3 linked regions of the Homo sapiens genome follow. The protein of the gene in region 2 interacts with the protein of the main gene of each other region in a pairwise test. Each region holds a gene or a part of one and is shown on either strand. Other genes may lie near its edges.

Region 1 (3,826 bases), on a different chromosome or scaffold from region 2:
TTATTACGGCTGTGTACCAAGCACAGAGCTACACATTTGAAATTTTTCAGTATAATTGTGAGATCCTGCTTAACTCTCATGTCCACTTCATAAAGCATGTCACCCTGAAAATCTGATCGCCGTGGACCCTATGTGACACTCAGTGTAACTGAGAGGGCTCTGGAAAGCCAAGCTGAACTTTTAATTAGTAAAGCAAATCATGGAAAACTGACAAGTCTGCTTTATATTTTATATGTAAAAAAGCAACATGGGTTTTTTAAAATGTGCGTTTTCCAGGGGTAGTTTTTGGTGACTGCTCTGCAGATTTTTAAGGCAATGTTAAACAACATTTTTATTTTTATTGTGAAACCTTTTTTTTATTGTTTATTCAAAGTGCTGCTGTAATTGGTGTTTGTATGTCTCTCTCTTAAGTGTGGTTTGCAGTGAATCACTTGTTGCCCCTTAAACAGTTAGCCTGGATTTAACCTCCAAGAGATTAAGTCTGGCAGAGTCTGAATTTTACACTGCTCTTTTCTTTGGAAGCTCTTCTGAAATCAGTGGAATAGAAATACAGGGGTACGAACAGCTCATCTGACAGGTAGGGAAGATTAATCCCCTTTAGAAAGGTTTCAGCTGGTGGACTGGCACTCCTTTAAAATGCATTCCCTGAGAGGCCAGGATGGGAAAAGTTATTAGTGAAATGGGAACTGGATGTGAAGGACTTGAGCTCCCTAATCTGCAGGACCTGGCTAGTCTGTTGTAGTGCTGGAAATTTGTGTACTCTTTGTAATCCTTTCCCTTGGAGAGTTCTAATTATATAATTCCACATTGTAGTCAGGGAAAAGAAAGTTAACGCTACAAACTGTTACTCCTTCCCAGGGTTTATAACCATCTTCTAAAATGGTTCCTTGATGACAGGCCTTTCCTTTTGGTGTTTATCTGGTTCATTCCCTGGGAACCTGGAGGGGACACTGTGAAGGACTCCCTCCTCCTCCTCTTCCACACCCCATCAGCGTCTTGTGGTTTCCACGTGGTGAAGGGCTGGGCAGCCCAATTTTGGGTTTACCTTGAGGTGCCTCCTTGGGGGCTCCTCGGGGCGGGCTCTTCCTTGCTCTTGCCCATTGGTTGTGACTCCATACATTGTCATTAGGATATTTCCTTTTTGGGAGCCCCGTGGTGACCACCAAGTGGAGAATACCAAGCATGTAAGGTTTCAAAGTAAAGAAACCAGGGGGCTTTGTTTTGCAGTGGAAGCATTGCTAGCTAGGTCTGGATTTTTATTGGTTGCACCCCAGCTGCATGGCCAATAGCAATTTCATGAAGGGACTGTTGGGTTGAAGGGACTGGCTTTGAAAACATTACTTCTCAGTGACCCTTTGGGCTCTTAGGTTCTGCTTTGCCCCACAACACCACCATAACACTGTTGAGGCTTTCAGTGGGTAGTGTGGGCTTCTTGAGTTTTGAAAGTAAAAATCCAAGCAACAAGAGGCGCTCCAGCCCATTAATTATAGCTGCAACTGGCCGGGGTTTTGTAGCAGCCGCCTTTTTCTAGCATGTATTTATTTGGTTTTGTTGAAGAGCTTGCCAAGTTGGAAACGAGGGCGGGACAGCTTTGCTTGCGTGTGCAGTTGTCATAAAATATGTCTGGGGTGTAATCTGTTTAAAATCATATTCGTAGAGTGGCCAAAGAATTGTTGAACAGTGTTGGGAATTTTCATAAAGCTTTTACAAAATAGGGAATTTTATTGGTGTGGTTGGCACTGTTTTTGGGATTTCTGTGGGTGTTTTCTTTTTAAGTCCTATCTCTGAAAAAAGCAAAAAACTCAAAAGCTAAAGGGAAGGAAATAATTACAGAAAAATGTAGCTTAATTCGACTAAGTAGCTTGGTCCTCTAGAAATCCTTAAGTTCTAGTGGGAAGTGGTGTGTATGTCTTTAATTGTCGCTGGAATGAGCTTCAGTAAGCACTCTGTCACTTTCTAGATGTTATCAGAGGAGAATGTGGCGGCTGCTTCAAGTCCTCCTGGAGTGGGGGAGGGTTCCCCTAAATCCCAAATACTCCTAGCCTAATGGTTTCCACACCCTCCTGGAGGGATAGTTAACACAATGGGCAGTTAAAATAAGGAAATGTTTAGGCCTGAACTCCTCATTGTAGGCTTGTGCTGTGGAATATAGTAGCCACCAGGCACACACAGCTATATAAGTTAAAATTAATTAAAATTAAAAGAAATTAAAGATTCACTTCCTCCCCTTCACTGGCTTCATTTCAGGTGTCAGTAGCCACAAATTGCTATGCAAAAATGTCACTGGGATTTTAGTAGAGGTTGCATTGAATTGGTAGATGGATCTGAGTAGTATTAACTTTTTTTTTTTTTTTTGAGTTAAGGTCTTGCTCTGTCACCCAGGCTGGAGTGCAGTGGTGCAAACACGGCTCACTACCTCTGGCCTTAACCTCCTGGGCTAAGCCTCTACCTCCTGGGCTCAAGTTATCCTCCCATCTTAGCCTCTGAAGTAGCTGGAACCACAGGCACGCGCTACCGTGCCTGGCTAATTCTTTGATTTTTTTTCGTAGAGATGGAGGTCCACTTGTGTTGCCCAGGCTGGTCTTGAACTCCTGGGCTGAAGGGATTCCCCACCCCCACCCCAGTCCTGGGATCGTAGGCATGAGCCACCTCACTGGCCATCATCTTAACAGTATTGTCTTCCTGTCCATAAACACAGGATGTCTTAACATTTATTTAGACCTTTCATTTCTTTCAGCAATGTTTTTTAGTTTTTAGTGTATGAGTCTTTTGCCTCTTAAGTTAAATCTATTCCTGAGTATTTTATTCTTTTCGAGCTGTTGTAATTGGAATTGTGTTTTTTAAATTTCCTTTTCACATTGCCCACTGTTAGTGCACAGAAATGTAACATTTTTGTGTGTTGATTTTCTAACCTGCAAGCTTGTGGAATTTGCTTATTAGCTCAAATAGCATTTTTGTAGCTCTTATTCTGTATGTAAAGTCGTATCATCTACAAATAGGCATAATTTTACTTCTTCCTTTACAATTTGGATGCCTTTTATTATTTTTGGTCTTGCCTAATTGCTCAGCCTGGAACTTCCAATACAGTCATGGGCCAAATAATGATGTTTTCAGACGATGGACCACCTATATGACAGTGGTCCCATAAGATAACACTACTGTATATGACTGTGCCTTTTATATGGTTAGATACACAAATGCTTCCCATCCTGTTACAGTTGCCTACAGTATTCAGTACAGCCACATGCTGTATAGGTTTGTTGTAGCCTAGGAGAAGTAGGCTACACCACATAGCCTAGGTGTGCAGTTTGTGTGAGGGACACTCTATGATGTTCATATGATGATGAAATTGCCCAGGGACACATTTCCCAGAATGTATCGTCATCGTTGAGCAACGCATGACTGTACTGTGTTGAATAGAAGAGGTGAAAATGGGCATTCTTGTCTTGTTCCTGATCTTGGAGGAAAAGCTTTCAGTCTTTTAACATTGAGTGTGATGTTTGCTGGGCTTGTCGTATATGGCTTTTACTATGTTGAGGTGGTTTCCTTTCTATTAGTTTATTCTCATTTTTTGGTATATTTTTGACTTTTAGAACATGCTAACATTCTACAAGTTCAAAAAATAAATCACTAAGAATAGCAGGAAACTAGAATTGAATACAAAGAAGCACATAAATGCAAATGTGTTGCAAATGAGTAACATGACTACACAGATGGGGGAAAAGAAACCGTAATGTTGGACTCAGTGCTTTGACGGTGTATCCTCAGCCTACAGGAGAAACAACAACCTGAAAGCAAAACTGGCACCCTTCTTAGTAGGTTTGAT
Region 2 (3,600 bases):
CAGGGTTTCACCATGTTGGCCAGACTGGTCTCGAACTTCTGACCTCAAGTGAACTGCCTGCCTCAGCCTCCCAAAGTGCTGGGATTACAGACATGAGCTACCGCGCCTGACGATTTTTGTTCTTTATAATATTTTTATTCCTTTTTTTAAGCCTTGACCATGGCAAGGACAGATTTTGAAGCTTTTAACGAGTCCTGATACAAATTTGAACATTTAGCTGGGATTTGGACAAAGCCACCCATTAGGACATTTTGAGGAGCAAAATGGAGAAAGATCTTATTTGATGCTGAGTGATGGATACACATGGGGGACAAAGGGATGCTTTTGCTTTGAATAGCGTTGCTAATTGCTGATTTCTGGTCTAACTTGGGGTCCCTAGGTTCATATCAAAAGAGAAGAGGCAGCTCTTGGGCTACCTTAGAGTCCTGGAGGGTGGCGAAGGCAGGAGAAGCTGCTTTCCCCAAAAGGAATTGAAAGTTTGTGTCGGCTTGCTCTCTTGCCTCTTGCAGCACTGACTTCCAGGAGGGCGGGGAAAGAGCTGCTGTGGACTATTGCAGGTTGTTGCTCCATTCTCACTGTTATTTTGTAGGAAAGAGCAAAATGCTAGAAAAGGACAAAAAGAGTCAATCTGATCTCTTTGCCATAGATATTTATTTATCTATTTATTTATTTTTGAGACGATGTTTCACCCTTGTTGCCCAGGCTGGAGTGCAATGGCGCAATCTCAGCTCACCGCAACCTTCACCTTCTGGGTTCATGCAATTCTCCTGCCTCAGCATCCCGGTAGCTGGGATGACAGGTGCCCGCCACCATGCCCAGCTAATTTTTGTATTTTTAGTAGAGATGGGGTTTCACCATGTTGGGCATGCTAGTTTCGAACTCCTGACTCAGGTGATCCGCCCGCCTCGGCCTCCCATTTGCTGGGATTACAGGCATGAGCCACTGCGCCTGGCTAGATGTTTTTTTAAAGGCTAATTTACTGCTGCATAAAAGCATTAGGGTATAGGAAGTATTGCTGGCCAGCTCAGGCAGAAAATGCAGGGAGAGAGGGATGGCGGTCAGCTTTATAAGTCCAACTGTGCTGCCTTGGGTCTTATAAGACCTGGGACTTACAAGGTAAGAGGAGGGAGCACCCTAGCCAAGCCGACTGGAGTGACTGGAGCCCCAGTTGTAGACCTGAACTTAAGTCATGCAGAGGTTTATGTTTTCTCCAAGTTTTCTGCCTTAGTTCTCTCTGATTTCATTCTCTCTACCTTACCTTTCCTCTGGTAAGGAAAGTAGTTCCCAGGCAGAGAGTATTTCTCTAAAAAGAGAGACATTGGATCTTTAGCTTGATTAACAAGGGGCTAACTCTGTTTTTGTGCTCCAGTCCTCAAATGTTGTATTTTCTTTTCTTTTCTTTTTTTTTTTTTTAAGTGGAGACAGGGCCTTGCTCTGATTCCCAGGCTGGTCTCTAACTGCTGGGTCCAAGGGATCCTCCCCCCTCGGCCTCCCAAAGTGCTGTGATTACCAGTGTGAGCCACCGCACCTGGCTCAAATGTTTTGTTTTCTGTTTTTCATTAGCCAGTGGCTTTCACAAATGAAAGAGTGAGTTCTGGAAGCTGGAGGGAGACTGCTGCCTAACCAGCTGAGCCACTGGGGAAGGAGGTACTGCAGGGAGGTGGGGCACCTGTATTTGTTTGGAAGAATCTGTTGCTACTCTGAGAATACACCTAACGGGACAGGAAAGATTAACGGTGGGGGTGGGCGGCCACTTGGCCAAACAAGTTTGTTCCCTTCTGAAATTTATAGCTGGGGTGTCTCCACCCTGTCACCCCCAGCAGGGCCTTTCATCTTTTCTCACTGAATAAAAATGCCCCAGGCCATGCCTGGTGGCTCTTGCCTGTAATCCCAGCACTTTGGGTGGCTGAGGCAGGTGGATCACATGAGGTCAGGAGTTTGAGACCAGCCTGGCCAATGTGGTGAAACCCCATCTCTATTAAAAATAGAAAAATTAGCCCGGCATGGTGGCACGTGCCTGTAATCCCAGCTACTTGGGAGGCTAAGGCAGGAGAACCCGGGAGGCAGAGGTTGCAGTGAGTGGAGATTGTGCCACTGCATTCCAGCCTGGGCAACAGAGGGAAAATGTCTTAAAAAAAAAAAAAAAAGAAAGCACCAAGTGCTGGTGGCTCTTTTTAAATACTTGCTTCATGAATTCATTCATGAGCCAGGTACTGTTCTAGGTGTTTCTCTGTGTTTTGTTTTTTGTTTTGAGACAGAGTCTTGCTCTCTTACTCAGGCTGGAATGTAGTGGTACAATCATGGGTCACTGCAGCTTCGACCTCCTGGGTGCAAATGATCGTCCTACCTCAGCCTCTTGTGTAGCTGGGAACACAGTTGCGTGCCACTGTGCCTAGCTAATTAAAAAAAAATTTTCAGTAGAGGCAGGTCTTGCTCGCTATGTTATCCATTTTGGTCTCAGACTCCTGGGCTCAAACAATCCTCCTGCCTCTGCCTCTCAAAGTGCTGGGATTACAGGCATGAGCCACCTTGCCTAGCCACTTCTGTGGGTTTTTTTTTTTTTTTTTTTTTTTGAGACAGAGTCTCACTCTGTCGCCCAGGCTGGAGTGCAGTGGTGTGATCTCAGCTCACTGCAACCTCTGCTTCCCAGGTTCAAGGGATTCTCCTGCCTCAGCCTCCCGAGTAGCTGGGACTATAGGCGCGTGCCAGCACGCCCGGCTAAGTTTTTTTGTAATTTTAGTAGAGACAGGGTTTCTCCATGTCAGTCAGGCTGGTCTGGAACTCCCGACCTCAGTTGATTCATCCGCCTCAGCCTCCCAAAGTACTGGTGTAGCAGGACAAGCCGTAGACAAAACTCCTCAGACACCGAGTTAAAGAAGGAAGAGGTTTATTTGGCCGGGAGCATCAGCAGGACTCCTGTCTCAAGAGCTGAGCTCCCCGAGTGAGCAATTCCTGTCCCTTTTAAGGGCTCACAACTCTAAGAGGGTCCATGTGAGAGGGTCATGATCAATTGAACAAGCAGGGGGTACGTGACAGGGGCTGCATGCACTGGTGGTCAGAGTGAAACAGAACAGACCAGGAAGTTTTATAATGCCTTTCCATACAATGTCGGGAATCTGTAGATAACATAACCAGTTAGGTCGGGGTGGTCTTTAACTACCAGGCTTAGGTCAGGCAGGCCCAGGACTGGTTTCGGGTCTGATTCCTAGGCGCCGGGCTACCTGCCTTTAGTTTTGCTTTTCTTTCTTTTTCTGAGTATAAAACATTATAAAACAATATGAGAGGGTCTGTCTCTCTTCTCTTACTGGCGTGAGCCATTGCACCCGGCCCGCTTCTGTGTTTTAATGCATCTTTCATTCAGATTTGCCTCTGCTCAAGGGAAATAGAGTCAGGCTTATTTTCCACATCTAGTTCAAGAGGGGATAGCTGAGTGGGAGGCCATGTTCTGGAAACTGGCTGGTTCACACAATCTTCTCCATCCCACAGTGACTCTGGGTACTGCAGTTTCTGCCTTTAATTAGGCAGGAGTTCTTTGTGCTTTGGGAGGTACTGAAGATCAGGCACATCAGGTTGGCGAAAGGGAAGTGATGGGAGGATCTT
Region 3 (3,826 bases), on a different chromosome or scaffold from region 2:
AACACCTAAGTCACTTTTCCATATAAAAATATATTCCCTTTAAGGTATCAGTGCAACTCCATTAAGGTAATCATATGTTTAAGCACAAATGAGTCGTTTAACACACAGCATATTGTTCATTTTCCAGCCATTCCTGTTTATATCTTCTATTGCAAAGAGAAAGTTCAACAGAGGGGGGGAAACCTGCCATAATAATTATTATTATTGATTTAATTTCATATACCATTTCTATATTCCAACATAAAAAGCATAAAGTTACAAAGAATTATGAAATAAATAATGTGATAAACTGCACTTGCTATGACTTTCAATATTGAAGACTTAGTAAAGCTACTACAAACACTTAGCTTTGTGGAATGTGAACATTGGCTGTTAAAAAAAAGTTAGTATAATGTATCCTCTCCGGATAAATGTCCAGGAGTTCCAGCAGTTTAAAAGAAATCTGGGCCAGGTGTGGTAGCTCATGCCTGTAGTCCCAGCACTTGGGGAGGCCACAGTAGGACTGCTTAAGCCCAGGAGTTTTAGACTAGCCTAGGCAACATAGCAAGACCCCATCTCTTAAAAAAAATTAAAAATAAGAGAAAATAAATGAATAAAAGATAATCTGATAAATCTAGAGGTTTGCTGATTCTTCTTTTGCTCAATTACTAGTCCTGTCAGCAAATGTAGGCAACACTGAAATCTTGAGTGCTTGCTTAATTGGAAATAAATAAATAAATAAATAAAACCCAAAAACAAAAGAGCTCTATTAGTCACTGAGTATACAAAGATACCAATGCTCAAAAAATTCACACCCCATAGTAAAAACACACAGAACCCCATAACCACATGCACTGTATGCAAGGAGCATCTTCAAATCAGAACTTCTGAAACTCAAGACAATTCTCATATTCCAAATTCTAAACATACTGTAAACGGATCAAGTAAGTCAGGCAATAGCTCTACTCAGGCTATTTTTGTTTCCATTGTTATTACTGCTGAAACAGTTTATAAGAGCTCATCACCTGTTTAGAACACAGAAATACTTCGGTACAAAACAAACCAATTTATTCCTAAGAAGAATTAAAATCTACAGTTATTCAATTCTCTTTACTTATGAAATGTCAATAATGCACAAAAATGTCCAGCGAAAGATGCATAAGGAAACTGCTATTCTCTGTGAACCTTAATTATTATCCCTTTCAACCACTCAAAAGGATATTTACATCCTTTAAGCAACACAGTAAGAAGTAAGCAAAATGGTGACTCAAAGTTACCCCAAAAAAAGGAAAAGGAAAAAATTCATGCAGAAAGGGTACAGAAATTCAAAGCAGATATGTCACTGAATCAAATCAACAACTTTCAACTCTAACGCCCAAGAAATAGTAAGTACATTTGCTCAGGCATTTAGCATTTAAGGAGGGATCAGAAACAAGAACATGGATAACCAAAAGGGGGCATGTTTTGTTTGTGACTTGGTCTGTTCCCTAAACGCAAATTACCTGAATAGTTCTAAATTCAAATGCAATCACTTTCATTAGGAAAAACACATTCCTGCTTAAAATCAGGCTTCATAGCAAGTCTTTACTAATCACAAAAACTGTGTAATTAACACAATTATATAAAGGCAAATTAATGAGTCACACAACATTATTTTTAATGGTGCTTGAAAGACTAATATGCAAAGATTACAACTATGGGGTTTCAAAATTAAAAAACAAAACAAAAATAACCGATAACAACAAGGCAATCACTACTACATAATATTACAGTCTTCCAAGTACAAAGGAAACATTCATGAAAATGAGTGACCAACTTAAAAAACACAAATAAATTCAAGATGAAGCAATACAGATTCAAGAAGCAGGTCAAATATTTCAATTTTTAATAGAAAATACTTAAAGATAACATTCAAATTTCCACTTCTGTTATTTCAGAACCACCTGCCTAAGATATTCAAGGGTCTATTAAACATCTTTGGTGGCTTGAGAAGAGCAACGTAACATTTTGAGCCCTGAACTTATTGCAAAATCCACTAACCAGATGAATGGCAGATTGACAATTACTTCAAACTAGGCAGCAATGAAACATATTTTATTTACACTGCTTTATACTACCTATTGATGTAGAGAATAGTAAATTTAAAATATGGCAGAACACTACACCTGAATTCATTTGAACCTGAATAATAGCTACGGTTTGTTTTTTCCTTGTCTACTGGGATTTTTGACAATGACAAAATGAAAGGAATTACAAACTAATTTGAGGGAAGAGGTTAAAAATTGCTTTTACGGTAATGGTTTGGAAGCAGAACAGTCCTTTAGAAATCAAAAACAGTTGGTCAGCTGTCACATGAATTTTCAAGACCTTGATTCAAAAGTATCATTGTAATTAATAGGTGGGAGAGTTAAGAAAGTGACAACGGGCTGGGCATGGTGGCTCACGCCTGTAATCCAGCACTTTGGAAAGCCGAGGCGGGTGGATCCCTTGAGGTCAGGAGTTCGAGACCAGCCTGGCCAACACGGTGAAACCCCGCCTCTACAAAAAATACAAAAATTAGCCGGGCGTCATGGCGCATGCCTGTAGTCCCAGCTACTAAGGAGGCTGAGGCAGGAGAATCACTGGAACCCACGAGGCAGAGGTTGCAGTGAGCCGAGATCGCACCAACGCACTCCAGCCTGGGAGACAGAGCAAGACTCTGTCTGGAAAAAAAAAAAAAAAAAAAAGAAGACAGTGACAATGGATTTCCTAGAAATACGCAGGAAACTACTTGACAGATGCAAAAGGAGACAGGCAGGTTATAAACTCATGTGGGTTCAAAAGTAACCTAAAATACTCTATCAAAATTGGATCACAAATTCAGGTTAGAAATAAAGCAATTTTATCACATTCTCAGGGAATTTTAATCATCACCTTAAAATAAACTAATAATTAAAAATATGAGAAATGTCTTACAAGAAAATCTATTAATATGTCAAAAATTCTAAGTGCAATCACTGTTGCAATGGAACAATTTTAAAATCACTAATCAAAACAAAATGAACAAACTTGTCCAGACTAAGATAAATCCAAAAAGAATTCTGAATTTTTTTTAAAAAATCTGTTTTAAAAGCACATGCTTTCCTGTGAGTATTCTACCTTATTTTCAACATTATCATTTCCACCTTAAAGAATACACAGCCCTCATTCTCAACTCTGCTTTATTCACTGAAATGGATTCTAAGGCAAATGGTCTCTCCATTAGCCTAAGCCATGCTCTGATTAAGAAACACAGTTTCTTATAAAAGTCTGGGGGATCACAACAAACATTTATATGGGTCACTTCTATGACTATCTATCTAAAACCCAAATACTCCATTTGAGAATTTTGAGGAAATGAATTTTTACAATAGCATTAAAAGTGAACCAAAATATAAGGCCAGTTAACAACATCCATCCTTTTCTGTATTACAAAAACTGTAACAGCGAAATTTTGCTTGTAAAATCCAATGTACATTTTATCATTTTGTATAAAATATCTACGGCCTCAGTAGTGATTAAATTGCAGCTATAAAGGAAATTGACCCGAAATAAATGGTTTCCCTATGAGAAGGCTTCACTGCTACACTTCACCTCAGGACAATAAATCAAATTAACTGCACCTTGTCCTCTGTCCAATGACATCATCAGTTTGACCACATCTTGGGAATCGGGTGCAAAAACATATGCTATTTAAGGCATGAAATTATATTGCTGCTTTTTGTCCATCTGACCTCATACTTCAGGTCTCTGAAGCAGTCATTCACCTGAAGGTTCTCTTAAAAGCTACAGATTTTTTTTTTTCCTGCTGCATTCAGGGCCTGCCTAC

Evidence for each region.
Region 1: the proteins of STOX1 (region 2) and ROR2 interact in binary tests that used the Homo sapiens proteins (3 or more experiments, as listed by UniProt).
Region 3: the proteins of STOX1 (region 2) and POU2F1 interact in binary tests that used the Homo sapiens proteins (3 or more experiments, as listed by UniProt).

The regions. Positions count from the first base shown.
Region 1 is NC_000009.12:91,943,609-91,947,434, reverse strand, and holds part of ROR2 (tyrosine-protein kinase transmembrane receptor ROR2 isoform 1 precursor), read left to right. Parts: intron 1-3,826. UniProt on the Homo sapiens protein: Tyrosine-protein kinase receptor which may be involved in the early formation of the chondrocytes. It seems to be required for cartilage and growth plate development. Phosphorylates YWHAB, leading to induction of osteogenesis and bone formation.
Region 2 is NC_000010.11:68,830,531-68,834,130, forward strand, and holds part of STOX1 (storkhead-box protein 1), read left to right. Parts: intron 1-3,600.
Region 3 is NC_000001.11:167,223,705-167,227,530, reverse strand, and holds part of POU2F1 (POU domain, class 2, transcription factor 1), read right to left. Parts: intron 1-3,826. UniProt on the Homo sapiens protein: Transcription factor that binds to the octamer motif (5'-ATTTGCAT-3') and activates the promoters of the genes for some small nuclear RNAs (snRNA) and of genes such as those for histone H2B and immunoglobulins.